Linked DNA regions of Homo sapiens: region 1 is linked to region 2. A link means that fine-mapping ties the variant in region 2 to the expression of a gene that starts in the linked region. Tissue or cell type: testis. Region 2 holds a variant in brackets; the other region holds the start of a gene. All regions are shown on one strand. Distances are between the middles of the regions.

The links. PIP is the estimated chance that this variant, and not a neighbour inherited with it, causes the effect.
Region 1: it holds the start of TMEM178A, and the variant in region 2 is the best candidate, but not a certain one, in a credible set for the expression of TMEM178A in testis (GTEx, PIP 0.86).

What each region holds. Positions count from the first base shown.
Region 1 is chr2:39,662,509-39,669,730 of GRCh38, reverse strand. TMEM178A (transmembrane protein 178A) reads right to left here and starts at 3,814. Exons shown (of 4, transcript NM_152390.3): 1 at 3,357-3,814. The coding sequence starts at 3,756.
Region 2 is chr2:39,382,416-39,389,637 of GRCh38, reverse strand. The region is part of intron 1 of MAP4K3 (mitogen-activated protein kinase kinase kinase kinase 3); the gene reads left to right. Among named protein-coding and RNA genes, the nearest start is that of MAP4K3, 51 kb to the left of the region's middle. The variant A/C (reference allele first, on the strand shown) is at 3,629.

The sequences.
Region 1 (7,222 bases), 280 kb before region 2:
TGTTTAAACTATGCTGGCAAATATTTTGTTTTATTTGTCAGTCTGGTAGAATAGCAAAGGGTTCTAGTCTTGGTTCTTAATGAGCGTATCAATAACTTTACCTCCATTCTTTCTGAAGGTTCTGGCTAAACGTCAAGCCTAGACCATTCCAGGCTCTGGGCTAGATAGAAGTGAACTTGTATCATAATAAGAGTGTGAAAACAAGAACTTGATGATTCTCCCAAATACTTGTCCCATTGAGATAAATGCTTTTCTAGCTCCAGTGATTTCTCTTAAGTAGACTAATATTATAGAGCCTTGCATATTTCTAAATTAATCTCTTATTGCCCACATTGCATGTTTCTATCCCCTGTACATCTCTCAGAAATATATCTCTCTTGTCTTGCCTCCAGTAATAGGAAATGTAAATAATTCCTATTATGAGAATGTTTTCCATATTATCAACTCTACATTTTCTTCCCTGCACTCCTCATTCAACTCCTAGCTTTGCCCTCTAGGTCCAGAGAAGAAAATGCTGACATCTTTGCCTCTCAGAAGCTCACTAAGCATGCCAGACAGTTCTTGAGCCCTTTTTCCACCCCTCCCCACTCTCCCATCTGAATAAACTTTTCATTTCCTACCATTAAAATTTCTAAACGATGCTAAGACTCATAAACAAGGTAACTCATAGAAGAAAGAATGGAACTTGGGACTCTAGTTGCTCAAATTTTAAAATTAGATACAGTGTTAATTTCTAGTTTTATAAATGGCTCATTTAAGAAATTCATACCACAGCCACTAATGTCAGATGCCAAAACAAAGGTGATAATGTTTGCCTAATATGGGTGCCAAAATCATCTTTGAGCCAGGAAAATGTTGGTGACATTTTCTTTTCTCAAATTATTCATAGACTCAGAATTTTAAAGCTGCTCTTGTCACCCATACATTTCACAGATGATGAAACTGAGATCTAGAAGAATTATGTAACTAGCCCAAGGTTGGTTAGTAGCAACATTACAAGGCATTTCTGGACATCTCCCAAACAACAAATTATGATCCTATAATCTACCAATGCCTGTTCTTTCCTCCAAACTCCTCATTGCTTAATAGCGTTGGCTCATTAACTTTGCAAGAAGCTAAATTTACATTGTTATTAATTATAACAATGACAGATATGTGAACTAGAAATTTCTCTAAAGAATAGTCATCCCTCCTAATAATACCACAGACAAGGAAACCGAAGGCGAAGAAGGTCTTGATACTTGGAGAACACACTGCAATTTAGCAACAGAGCCAGCAATGGGGCCCATATCTTCTGTTCACAACCTAGAACTCTTCAGTGTTCTACACAAAAGATTAGCTAAACACCATCAATATTATAAAGCTGAGATTGTTTTCATCTAAAAATAGGCATTCGTGACTGGGAAAATCTAGTTCTTTTAACGAGTATATGAGTTCCGTCTTACGGAAGTACTGGGCTAGACAACCATTTGTCAGAAAGATTGTAGAAGGGAATTTGAACAACCAGTAGATGTTCAACTTCAATGACCTCTAAAGTCCTTCCACCTCTATTATTTGACCCTGGACTGCCCTGGAACTGGCACCTCAGTTAGCCAGGGCATTTGCAGAGGCATTGTGCAATATCCTGTGGGGGTCCCCTCTTCTACTGTAGGTTTGACTCTGCCCTGCTGTTTCAGGCATTGCTCTATATCCAATTTACATGCAATCAAATACTCTAAGCATAGAAAGTGTAAGGAAATGCAGTTCTGTCATTTCCAAAGACAGACTACACTGCTTAGCTTTCAAAATTGCCTTGCCTAAATGAGCACTCCATAACTGAGCCTCCACATTCAGCTTTTACAGTTTGTTCATGTACTATGCTACTATCAGAATTAATTATGCAGCATCTTCATGAGGAGAAATCAGATTTGGATGCAAGTTAGGAGAGAAAAGAAAATGGTGCACTTCCCAAAAGATTTTACTGTATCTGGTTCCCCTAAAAGTGCTGGAGTCCTTCCACACGCAGACAGATTTTGGATGGCAGTCCCCAGCTGAGTTAGCCATGGGAAGGAGGAAGTTGACATGTTTGAGAAATGAAGAATCCGCCAACTAGCAAGACTCTGAAGGCCAACACATTATTAACCCCCTCTTTTCTATGTCATTCCATTCCAGGCTGTAACTCAACACAAATCCGTCTGTTTGTTTTCCTACATGGCTACTAAATATTAAAATGTACTGATTTTGGACTTTTTCTTTTTTGGCATCATGAGTCCAAGAGAAGAGATGTTGATTTTTTTTTTTAATCTCAAAGGGGAAAAAAATACATTGAGTCAAGTTCTGAAAGTTAAAGGAAGCTTCACAAGTTGTCACACTGAATATTTTTACGTGAATGGGATTACCAAAAAAAAAAAAAAAATCAAACTATCTGATAGCATTCACAGAAGACAGGTGTTGCACAGATTTCAGAAGAACAAATTGATGCTCTGCAACTCAGTGCCAAACAAAACAAACAACAAAAACAACCTGACAAGGTACCACGAACAGAAGACAGAGTGATAAGCAGAGAGTGAGTGCCCAAATCTGGAAAGCTCTAGTTTAAAGGGCGAGGACATTTTCTCTCCTCAGTGCCTGGACAGCGAGGAGGGTGGGGGTATGGGGTCCTCAGGAAGGTTGGAAAGCAGGTGTCCTATCTGCCTCGGGCAGCCTCCACCAGCCTCCACCAGCCAACGATTGGTCTCTGAAGTCTAATCCACACACACCCTGCACTTCAGGGGTATGAAGGAAGGTTCCGGGGCCTCCTTCGCTGCCCATCAGCCCTGCCAGGCTGGGATGACCACATCAGTTCCGTCTGACACCAGCATCCGCACAATACAGGCAAAGCCCCTTCCCTCTCTTCGGAGGTCGGCACCACTTTTCTTCCAAACGGTATTTCCAAAAGGAGCACAACTTGAAGGAAGGAGCCCGGGTGAGAAAAGTCGAGTCTTTGACGGTTAGTCCCCCTCACGGGGAGCAGCGTCAAGAAAAGACACACATGTCAGGCAGGTGTACAAAGGCAGAGAAGGACGGGGAGAGAGAGAGAACCGGGGAATGGGAGGCGAAGGCAGGAAAGAAGGAGACAGAGGCGGGAGGTGCGGCACGGACTTGAAAGGACGCGCAGGATGTGGACGAAAGAAGAGAGTCAAGGAGAGGGAGAAGAAGGGAGGCAGTGGGGAAAGAAAGGGAAGAGATAAAGACTGGAGGCGGCGGGAAGGATGCAAGAATGCCCAGGCGCGGGGCCGCGGCTGGGAGGGGGCTGCGGGGACCGGCGCGCCCCTGGGAAGCCGCGGGCTGCGCTCCACGCGCGGGCGCCGGGGACGCGGGGTGCGCCCGCCGCTCACCTTTCAGGATGAGGGTGTCGATGTCCCGGTCGATGCCCAGGAAGTAGCACTTCCTCCAGAGGCCCGAGTAGGTGGCGAAGAGGGGCCGGCCGCACTCGGCGTCCAGCCCGCCGAGCCCCAGGAGCGAGCGCCAGGACTCGGGGTCGGCGCGCCCCGGGCCGCCCGGGAGCAGCCGGCGCCCCAGCGGGGGCGAGTCCCGCAGCGGCAGGTGCGACAGCGGCATCAGGCGGTTCTTCTGGTCCGGGGGGTCGGCGCCCGCGCGGCTGCGCTCGCAGCTCTCCTTGTGGCGCCGGGGGTCGGTCTCGTACCAGTGGTCGGTGAAGATGGCCGTGACGAGCAGCCCCAGGGAGCACAGGCTGAGGCCGAGGCTGAGCGCCGTGACGAGCGCCCGCGGCTCCATGGCTTCCCGCCCCGCCGCAGCCGCCGGTGGGCTCGCGCGCCGCCGCCAGACACAATGCACTTGGCCCCAGCTCTCCGCCCGCTCCCTCCCTCTTCCCCCCACCTGCCCCCCACCTCCCTCCTACGGCCTCCTCGCCCTGCGAGCCCGGCCCGGCTCGCTCCCTCTCCCCTGGCCTGATCTCGCCTCCCACCGCCCGCCCGCCCCCGGCCCGGCCCCCGGGCTCCTAGCCCTCCCCCGCGCCGCTCTCGCTTTCTTGCCCCCCTCCTCTTCCCCAGCCCCCTCTCCTCGCCCCGGCGCCCCCCACCCCGCGCACTCCTCTCGCCCCTCTCCCTACCTCCGATCCACAGTCCGCCCTCCTCTCCAGCGACCCCCCTTCCCCTTTTAATCTCTCCTCGCCGCCCTCATCCTCCTCTCTCCCCTTAACCCTGTCCCTACTTTCCCCCGACTTTTCTCCAACTCTTCCTCTCACACTTTCCCCCACTCATTTGCTCCTCTGCTCCCCGGCTCCTGGTGCATTTATATCCCGGCTCTGGACTCGGTGCCTCTCTCCACCTACCCCTCGGCACACCCCTCCCGTCCTCTTCCCTCCAACGACCTTAAAAGACATCCACCGACATAAGACTCACTCTTGTCACTTGTCCAAGTTGATTTTGATCAGTGTCCCGTTTTGTACCCAGGAGCAAATCCCATCCAGGTCGGGCTGCGTGGTAGCGTTTAACTCCTTGGAATCTTGATCTGGAGTCCGAAGGTCCCTTTGTCCTGCCGCCTGCCGCCTGCAGGATGAAGCCTCTGAGACCCCTAGGCAGCCAGCTCTATCTGTCGCGGCTCTTTCCCTCTCACTTGCCCATCGCTTAGCCTCTAAGCATTCTCTCTGCTCAAGCCCCTCTTCTGAAAGAAAAAGACACCGAGTGTCAGTGGAGCGATAGAACGATGACCAGAGATTTTTCTCCCACTTCATTTCAACCTGCTATGAGATGGACTTCTTTTTTCGTTGACTACGTCCATCTCCCGCCAGACTGACTGGCCTCCTGGAATTTCTAGAAGAGCCTGGAATCAATGAACCCTGGCAGTGGCACCTGCTCCATGAGGTGATTATTGCCTTTGCATACAGCAAGCCCCCAGTAATAAATCAAAGTAATGATTTTCTCCTGTGCAGGTTTCCTTCTTGGGCTGGGGGGTGGGGGTCAACAGCAAAGCAATGCTACACACCAAAGTCAACACCTGAGCCTGGGGCAGTTCTTCCATCTTCCAGTCACAGAGGTTACTTCCAAGAATGGCAGGCAGATTCACATTTTCTAAAATGAGGAAACGCTAGGACCCGGGGTGCTAAGAGTTAATCACTTGTGCGGTATAGTCAGTCTATACCACAGAGGTGCAATACACTCGTGCCACTCAATGCCCTTGTGGTCATGTCAGAGACAGAAAACCATGCTGCACTGGCCCAGGGATGAAAATGCTTGTGTTCTTATGCTATGAAATATTAATGATGAAGAAATTATGAGGCATTCATTACATGCTAAATGTCATTACTCCATGATTTAATGGGACTTATTAATTAGTGCCCTACATCAATTGGTATTAATATGCTTTATATCCTTCCTCTAGGATGACATCTGTAAAGGTGGTATAAGGCTCTTGCTGGGATTTATTTTCATTGCTGTTTGTGTTTAGCATCTTCAGAGGGTACATTTCCAGTGAAGATCGTGTGCCTATTCTGAGCGGTTCAGTTCATAGATAGATCACTTAAGCAAATCTTTCAGTTATATCAGACCCGCATTCCCATTTCTGCTGACCTGACAGTGTGAATTATTGCTTGGATTTTCTCACAGTTTCAGCAAGGTCTATGGTGAGCTCTAGTCTAATTAAGGAAGACAAAGAATTATAATTTTAGTGTTCCTCTCACCTATAAGCTTTTCCTTCACAGCAAACACTGAGCTCATCAAAGGAGTCTTAGCTGGATTTACACAAAAATGATAAGACTTAGAAGCTTTCTTTAATTTATACTCTACAATATGTATAAAATCCTAGATCTTAATAGATGCACAGAGAGAATACCTTTAACTGTGAGTCCACAGTTGACATCTGAAATTCACTCAAGTCATCATGTGTTCTTTTATTTTTAGAAATGCATCTTGAGATAAAGTTATCAAAACCTTGGAAGCCCCAAGGGTTGTCAAGCCTTTAGCAAGTCCTCATCCCCTTTTCAAGTCTTCACCTCATGTATTACAAGAAATAAATATTCAGCCACATTCCAGAGTCACCTAATCATCTTCACACAATAACCCTGTCTTCAGCTGGAGCTAGACAGAAGAAAGCCTCTTTTTAAGGCACTTCTGTTTAAATTAAAAGAACTTACCATTCTGTCTCATTTTCCTAGCTAGAACTCTTTGATCATACTCTTTTTAGAAAATAGCATTATTCTTCAAGTTCATTTATGTCTATGTTTAAGACCATTCTCAGCATATAATCCAAAGGTTACTATATGATGGATTGCCCTTGACAGTATTTCATAAAAAATGTCACACATTACAAATATGGGCCAGCAGTATGTAATGAGAGCGCTGCCTCTGCTGGTGCAGCATTAATGGCGCCAGCAGGGATGTGGCATATGATGTGTACACAGGCTTTGTTACAGCAACTGCACATTGCTCCATCTATGTTTTTAAAATTCCCCTTTTGGATACTTCCAACAATGAACTATCACCCAGTAGCCCCCTACTCTGTTAGGGGAGTGAAAAATATGAAGATGAGTAAGTGGTGCCCATCTTCAAGATACTCCCAGCCTAGTGGCGAGAAACAGATGTATTGACAGAATGAGAGGCAAATGCTGTAGTAAAAAAATAAAAGAGAACAAAGGGTCATGGGAACATGGACAATGAAGAGACTAACTGCCGTGGGGAGTCAGGTGGGCTACATAGAGACAGTAACTGTTGAGTTAGTTCTTAAAGGATGAGTTAAACTTTGCCAAGAGGATATCAGAAATATTTGTATTGCAGTCAGAGAATACCTCTTTGGCCTAGTGTCTACTTCATACATTTGGAGGCTTCAGTGTCTTAGGCCACTGTAAAATAAGTATTTTTTGTACATTTTTAAGTCATAAAGTTAACATGTTCTAATGACTGACTACAAGCTGGATAGCTGTAGATGAGTGGAAGGAAAAGTCTATACCTGAATATAATCAGTGTAGGAGGCCATTTAGCTCAGCATGGAGTCAAGATGATGGGAGATCAAATATCCAGCCAGAACACCTGGCATATCTTAGCTGTGGCTATGCTATGACCTTGATGTTTTCAAACTTAGCTTGTTTTTTATTTGTCTTAAATTTCTCTTTGCCATCTCCAGATCCGATATCCCCAGTGCATCCCTCAGAGAAAAACAGAATCCCTCACATGACAGGGAGAGCCGGAGAATTTCCACCAGGGTATTTTAATGTGTTATTGGGCTCAAGATATTCAAAATTAAAGTC
Region 2 (7,222 bases):
TCAGCACTGCATTTTCTACAGTCTTTCTGGCTTTCTTTTTTCTCTGAAAAGTCTAATTGTTGTTCTTTTGTGGATAATCTGACTCCTTTTCTCTGAGTGCTTTTAAAGATCACTTCTTTTTCTTTAGTTTTTTTGCAGTTTCATGTAGTGTGTCTAGATGTGGATTTCTTGTTTATTTGCTCTCCTTGAGACTGTGTCTTCTGAATCTGAGGTTTTGTCTTTTACCCATTCTGGAAAAATTTCAGCCATGGTGTCTTGAAATATTGGTTCTCTCTTCCTTCCTTGTTTAATTAGATGTATATTTTCTTATTCTATTCTTTGTGTCTCTTAATCTCTCATTTTCTATCTCTTGCTCTCTTTGCTGCTTCAGATCTGCCATTTTGTCTAATTTTATGTCTGTGTACACCAGTTAGGTTTTTAATTTCGTTTTTTATTTCTAGAAATTCTATTTTGTTCTTTTTGTCCTGTCTGCCAAGTCATTTTTGTTAGCCTCTTGCTTCTGACCCATGTATTTATTTATTTCTAGTGTTAACTTTTAAAAAATCTGTCCTATGTATTTAATACCTTCTTTTATTTCTTTAAACTTTTAAAGCGTACTTGATTGTAATGTTATATATCTTTTAATTCCTAAAATTTAACTTCTATGGATTTGATTTGGTTTTTCATAGTTTTTACTGCTCTGGTGGTTTGTTTCCTTTTATGCTTGATAATTTTGTTTTAAGCTCATATCTGCCTAATAATATTATGTGGTAATTTCCTGGAGTATGGGTTGAAGATGTGTTTATCTACAGATAATTTGTTTCTCCCTCTGCCAGGTGCCTTGTGTTACCACCAACCCAGAAACAACTTAAATTTATTTCTTGACTTGAGGCTCCTGGCCCTCAAAATCAGTGTAAATTTTAACCCTATGCTCTACTGGGGACAGACTTGTGATTATGGATTTCCAGGGAAGATATTTTGATTCTAGTGAAGGCCTGATTTGAACAAATTGCCTGTTGTGGATAGAGCCCTTTTCCCCAACCTACCTGTGCGGTGTGACTCTTCAAGGGCATTGCTGGTTTTATGCAGTGGTCCCAATTTCAGCTTTCACCACATCTAATAAAAATCAAAACTGAAGTCCCTAGATTCCAAGTTTAATCTAAGGCCATGGCTTGAGCTTTTGTTTACAGCTCTGATTTTATTCAGTAAATACATTTAACAGATTTTTTAAAGCTGTTTATACTACATCTCTTTGTGCCACCTGTGAATTTATTTGCTTGTGAGTTCAGTGCACGTAAAAGAGTGTTTGTTGTATCTTGTCTGCTATTTCTAGATATTTGTAATGGAAGGATATTTTATATCTAGTCTAACTTATTTCCAAAAGTGAAATCTTGGAAGGTGTTTACGCACATTGGGGTCTGAGCACCTTTGGGCTAGAAATGCTGCTGCTATTGCTTCTATAGTGCAAAGTTGGAATTGGTTACCTGATCTCTTATGCTTTCCCAAACTCAGTGCTACTGTTAAGTTTTATCCATATTATTAGTGTGGTCTGCCAGTTACCATTTAGAAGTGTTATTGATATGGAACAGGTCCATTTTTGAATTCCAAAATTCAGAATTAAACTTTGAAATACAAATTACTGATATGTTGGAACTGTCTGTACTCTTTTATCACTCACAGATTATTTTCCATGTCTATATCCAATTATTATCTGCTAAGTGCATTTTTTGAAAGTTAATGATAGCCTCAATCTGTTTTTAAAATTTTTTTTTATTAGGACCAGGTAGTCCTAGAAATGTAGATCTTTAATTATCTGGTTTTAAGAAACAAAGAGCCATTCAAGTTAACTTAAGAAAAGAGAGGCTATTGTAAAGATACATGATACACGGAACTGGAAGCTTGTCAGGAACTCAAGGCAGCTTGGAGATCTGCTCTTTTCTTATGGTCTTGTAATTTTTTCTGTCCATCTGTTGGGTTATTTGCTCTTTATTGATTGTCTCTTCATTGCGTCTTTTCTATTTCTTCAAAACTTCACTTTATGCCCAAAGTCCTGCATGCTGTGACACTGGCACATAGCATGGTTTCACAGTGAGTTACATTGCATGGTGGTGCTATTTCTCAGTATTTCCAGTTTCAAACATTTTAGAGTTGTGCTGTCTAATGCAGTTATCACTAGCCACGTGTGACTTTTAAAATCAAAATTGAAATTACGTATAGGATCTGTATGCTGATAACTGCAAAGCACTGATGAAAGATATCAATATCTAAATAAACAGAGACACCTGCCAGTAGTGTTCATGGATTGGAAGACTCCACATAGTAAATATGTCAGTTCTTTCCAAATTGATCTATAGATTTAATGTACTTCCAAATAAAAGTCCCAACAGCAGATTTTTTTTTTTAAACAGACAAGCTGGCTCAAATTTATATGGAAAGGCAAAGGACCTTTGTTGCCAAAGCAACTTTGAAAAAGTAAAAGTTGGAGGAATCACAAAATTATTGTGATTGTAAATTTAAAATTTACTATAAAACTACAATAATCGGCCGGGCGTGGTGGTGGCTCATACCTGTCATCCCAGCACTTTGGGAGGCCAAGGTGGGTAGATCACTTGAGGTCAGGAGTTGGCGATGAGCCTGGCCAACATGGCAAAACTCCATCTGTACTGAAAATACAAAAATTAGCTAGGCGTGGTGGCACACCTGCAGTCCCACCTACTCAAGAGGCTGAGGCAGGAGAATCATTTGAACCCAGAAGGCAGAGGTTGCAGCGAGCTGAGATTGTATCACTGCACTCCAGCCTGGGCAACAGAGTGAGACTCCGTCTCAAAAAAAAAAAAAGAACAACAAAAAAAATTACACTAATCAAGACTGTATAGTGTAGGTAAGAGATAAACACACAATCACTAGATCAATATAGATCAACATGGGGTCCAGAAATAGATCCACACAAATATAGCCAATTCATTTTTGACAAAGGTGGAAGTCAGTTCAATGAAAGGAAAATTGACTTTTCCACAAATGATAAGAAAGAGTTGGACATATACATGCAAAAAAATGTACCTAAACTTAAACTGTACACCTTACACAAAAATGATCTCAAAATGTATCATGAAACTAAATGTAAAAACATAAAACTTTTAGAAGAAAACACAGGAGAAAATATTTGTGACCTGGAGTTAAGCAAAAAGATCTTGGATGTGATACCAAAAGCACAATTCATAAAAGAAACTATTGATAAATTGGACTTTATCAAAAATAAAAACTTTTGCTCTGTATATTTGTTTGGCAAGGCTGCCATAACAAAATGCCACAGACTGGGTGGCTTCAACAGTAGAAATTTATTTTCTCATAGTTCTGGAGGCTGGAAGTCCAAAGTTAAGGTGCCAGCAGGGTTGGTTTCTCCTGAAGCTTCTCTCCTTGGCTTGCAGATGGCCTCCTTCTTGGTGCATCTTCACATGGCCTTTTCACTGTGCATGTATATCTCTGGTATCTCTTCCTTTTCTTAAAGGGACATCAGTCTTGTTGGATTAGGGCCAACCCATATAACTTATTTAACCTTAATTACCTCTTCAAATGCCCTTCCTCTGAATATAGTCATGTTCTAAAGTGCTGGGGGTTGGGACTTCAACATATGAATTTGGTAGGGAGC[A/C]CAATTCAATTCATAAATTCTGCAAAAAACACTGTTAACAAGAATGAAGAATAAGTTACAGACTGGAAGAAAACATTTGGCTGGGTGCAGTGGCTCATGCCTGTAATCCCAGCACTTTGGGAGGCCAAGACGGGTGGATCACCTGACGTCAGGAGTTTGAGACCAGCCTGACCAACATGGTGAAACCTCATCTCTACTAAAAATACAAAAAAATTAGCCGGGTGTGGTGGCAGTTGCTTGTAATCTTAGCTACTTGGGAGGCTGAGGCTGGAGAATCGCTTGAACCCGGGAGGCGGAGGTTGCAATGAGCCAAGATTGCGCCATTGCACCCTAGCCTGGGCGATAAGAGTGAAACTTCGTCTCAAAAAAAAAAAAAAATTGCAAATCATATATCTGACAAAGGACTCATATATAGAATATATATATATATATATATATATATATATATATATATATATGAAGAACGCTCATAACTCAGTAAGAAAATAAATATTCCAGTTAAAAACATGGATGAAAGACTGGAAAACAGTTCATCAAAGGATGGCAGGTAAGCACATGAATAGACTAAGAGCATCATTAGTCATCAAGGAAATGCAAACTAAAACCACCATGAAATAGCATTTACCTACCTATTAGGATGGCTGAAATAAAAAATACAATGCCAGCTCTTGGCAAGGATGTGAAGCAAGTGGAACCCCACCATGCGTTGCTTCTGGGAATGAAAAATGGTACAGTCACTCTGGAAAGTTGGGCAATTTCTTATAAGGTTAAACATATACCTACCATATGATATGACCTAGTCACACTCCTGGGTATTTATCTACCCTGTATACAAATGTTTATAGCAGCTCTTTCCGTATTTGCCAAAAACTGAAAACAACCCAGATACCCTTCAACTGGTAAATGGATGAACTGTGGTAAATCCATACAGTGGAACCCTACTCAGCAATAAAAAGGAATAAACTAATGATATATGCAACAACTTGGTGAAAGAAGAGTCTAAAGATGTTATATAATGAATGAATTTATATGGCATTCTCAAAAAGAAAAACTGTAGTCATAGAGAACACGTTAGTGTTTCCAGGGTTTAGGGAGGATTATGACTTCCATTGGAGTTTTTGCAGTGATGGAACTTTCTTATTTCCTGATGGTGGTGGTGGTGGTGGTTACATAATCTAATATATGTGTTAAAATTACTAGAACTGTATCTTTAAAAATCCATTTTATTGTCTGGTAGTTAAAAAAATTAAAAACTCCAAATTTTAAATATTTCATTTTGTACACACGTACAATTAAACAAAATTCAGTTTTTCACTTGCACTGGCCACATTTTAAGTGATCAATAGGCACATGTGGTATGGGGCTAATGTATTGGATATTGCAGATACAGATCATTTCCATCAATGCAGAAAGTTCTTTTGGACAATGCTGGGTTTTCTTTGTTTTGTTGCTGTTGTTGTTTTGAGATGGAGTTTTGCTCTTGTTACCCAGGCTGGAGCGCAGTGGCGCAATCTCAGCTCACTGCAACTTCCGCCTCCCGGGTTCAAGCGATTCTCCTGTCCCAGCCTCTCGAGTAGCTGGGATTACAGGCACATGCCACTGCGCCCAGCTAATTTTTGTATTTTTAGTAGAGATGGTGTTTCATCATATTGGTCAGGCTGGTCTTGAACTCCTGACCTCAGGTGATCCGCCTACCTCGGCCTCCCAAAGTGCTGAGGTTACAGGCATGAGCCACGACGCCCGGCTTGAGCCACCATGCCCGGCCGACAGTGCTGTTTTAAAGCAAGGATCAGCAAGTTGTCGATAAAGGGTCAGATAGTAATACTTCAGGCTTTGTGAGCCATATGGCCTCTGTCTTAGCTACTCAACTCTGCCATTGAATTTTTTTTTTTTTTTTAATACTGGTCTTACTCTGTTGCCCAGGCTTGAGGACAATGGTGTGATCATAGCTCACTGCAGCCTTGATCTCTTGGGCTCAATTGATCCTCCTCCCACCTCAGCCTCTTGGGTAACTGGGACTATAGGCACATGCTACCAAGACCAAGCCCAGCTAATTTTTGTATTTTTTGTAGAGACAGGGTTTCACCATGTTTCCCAGGCTGGTCTTGAACTCCTGGGCTCAAGCGATCTGCCCACTTTTGCCTCGCAAAGTGCTGGAATTACAGACATGAGCCATGTACATGTGGCTATGTACCAGTAAAACTTTTATTTACAAAAATAGACATGTTTGCTGATCCCTATTTTAGAGAATTTGCCCTGTTTCCTATTTTCATGTCAGCTCAGGGTTTATTGGTATATTAACCTTATAATTTATCATCCAAATTTAATAAATGTTCAGTTGTTTAAGAGTGAACACAGGCACTCTTATTGTACTGGTAGAATTATTAATAATTCTACCGGTACAATAGGCATAACCAGGAGTACTCTGGGTAAACCAGGGATGTATGTCACTCTGTTAGTTTTCCTATGAATTGGTTGCCCTTGTAGTGGACACATACCTAGTGACATGATTTGGCTGTTTCCCCACCCAAATTTCATCTTTAATTGTAGTTCTCATAATCCCCACATGTTGTAGAGGAACCTGGTGGAGGTAATTGAATCATGGCGGTGATTACCGTCTTGCTCTTCTCATGATAGTGAGTTCTCATGAGATCTGATGGTTTTATAAGGGGCTTCCCCTCTTTTGCTTGGCACTTTTCATTCCTGTTGCCACGTGAAGGAGGACATGTTTGCTTCCCCTTTTGCCTTGCTTGTAAGTTTCCTGAGGCTTCCCAACCCTGCGGAATTGTGAGTCAATTAAACCTTTTTCCTTTATAAATTACCGAGTCGCAGGCAATTCCTTAAAGCAGCATGAGAACAAACTAATACACCTAGTCTAATCAACTTTGGGAAAGCGAACATGAAGCCATCCCTTCAGCAGTGAGCATGGGTTATCCATTTTCTTCTGAAAGGGAGTAGTTGTATGGGAAGTACTCTGAGGTTTGGCTGGCCTGGTACACTCAAAATAGTCTGTGTTTTCTGTCCCCAAGCCTTTGCTCATGCTTTTCGTTCTGTGCCCTTTTCCCCATCCCTTTTGTATGTTTTTCCTAATTCAGGCCATCTTTTCAAACCTCTGCATAAATGGTAACATCTTCATGCCATCATTCCTGTAATACCTTTTCAGGCTTATAAGTTGGTGGTTACATTTTCTAAAAGTCAGTAACATAGTGCTTTAAACTGGGTCCCCAAACCTGACTGTGTATCAGCAGTACCTCAGTAGCTTAAGATACAGAATCCTGGGTCCCATTCTTAATCGCTTGACCTAGAATTCAAAATTTGTAGCAGTATTTTGTTATTGTTTTGTTTTGTATTTAAACTCTTTATATGATTTTTATATAACCAACTAGCTGGTTCAGTATTTGGAATCTGTTGATTTAGAATGAAATTATTTGATATAAACATTGACTTTTAGAATTAGAAGGAACCTTAGAAATAGCCTGTCTTCACCTTCATGTTATTAAATTGTGGGCAGAGGGGTCAGGAAGAAGACACAAGGGAAATTACTTGCTCAGATCCCATTGCTGGTTACTGGCAGAGCCAGGACTAAACGTTGTT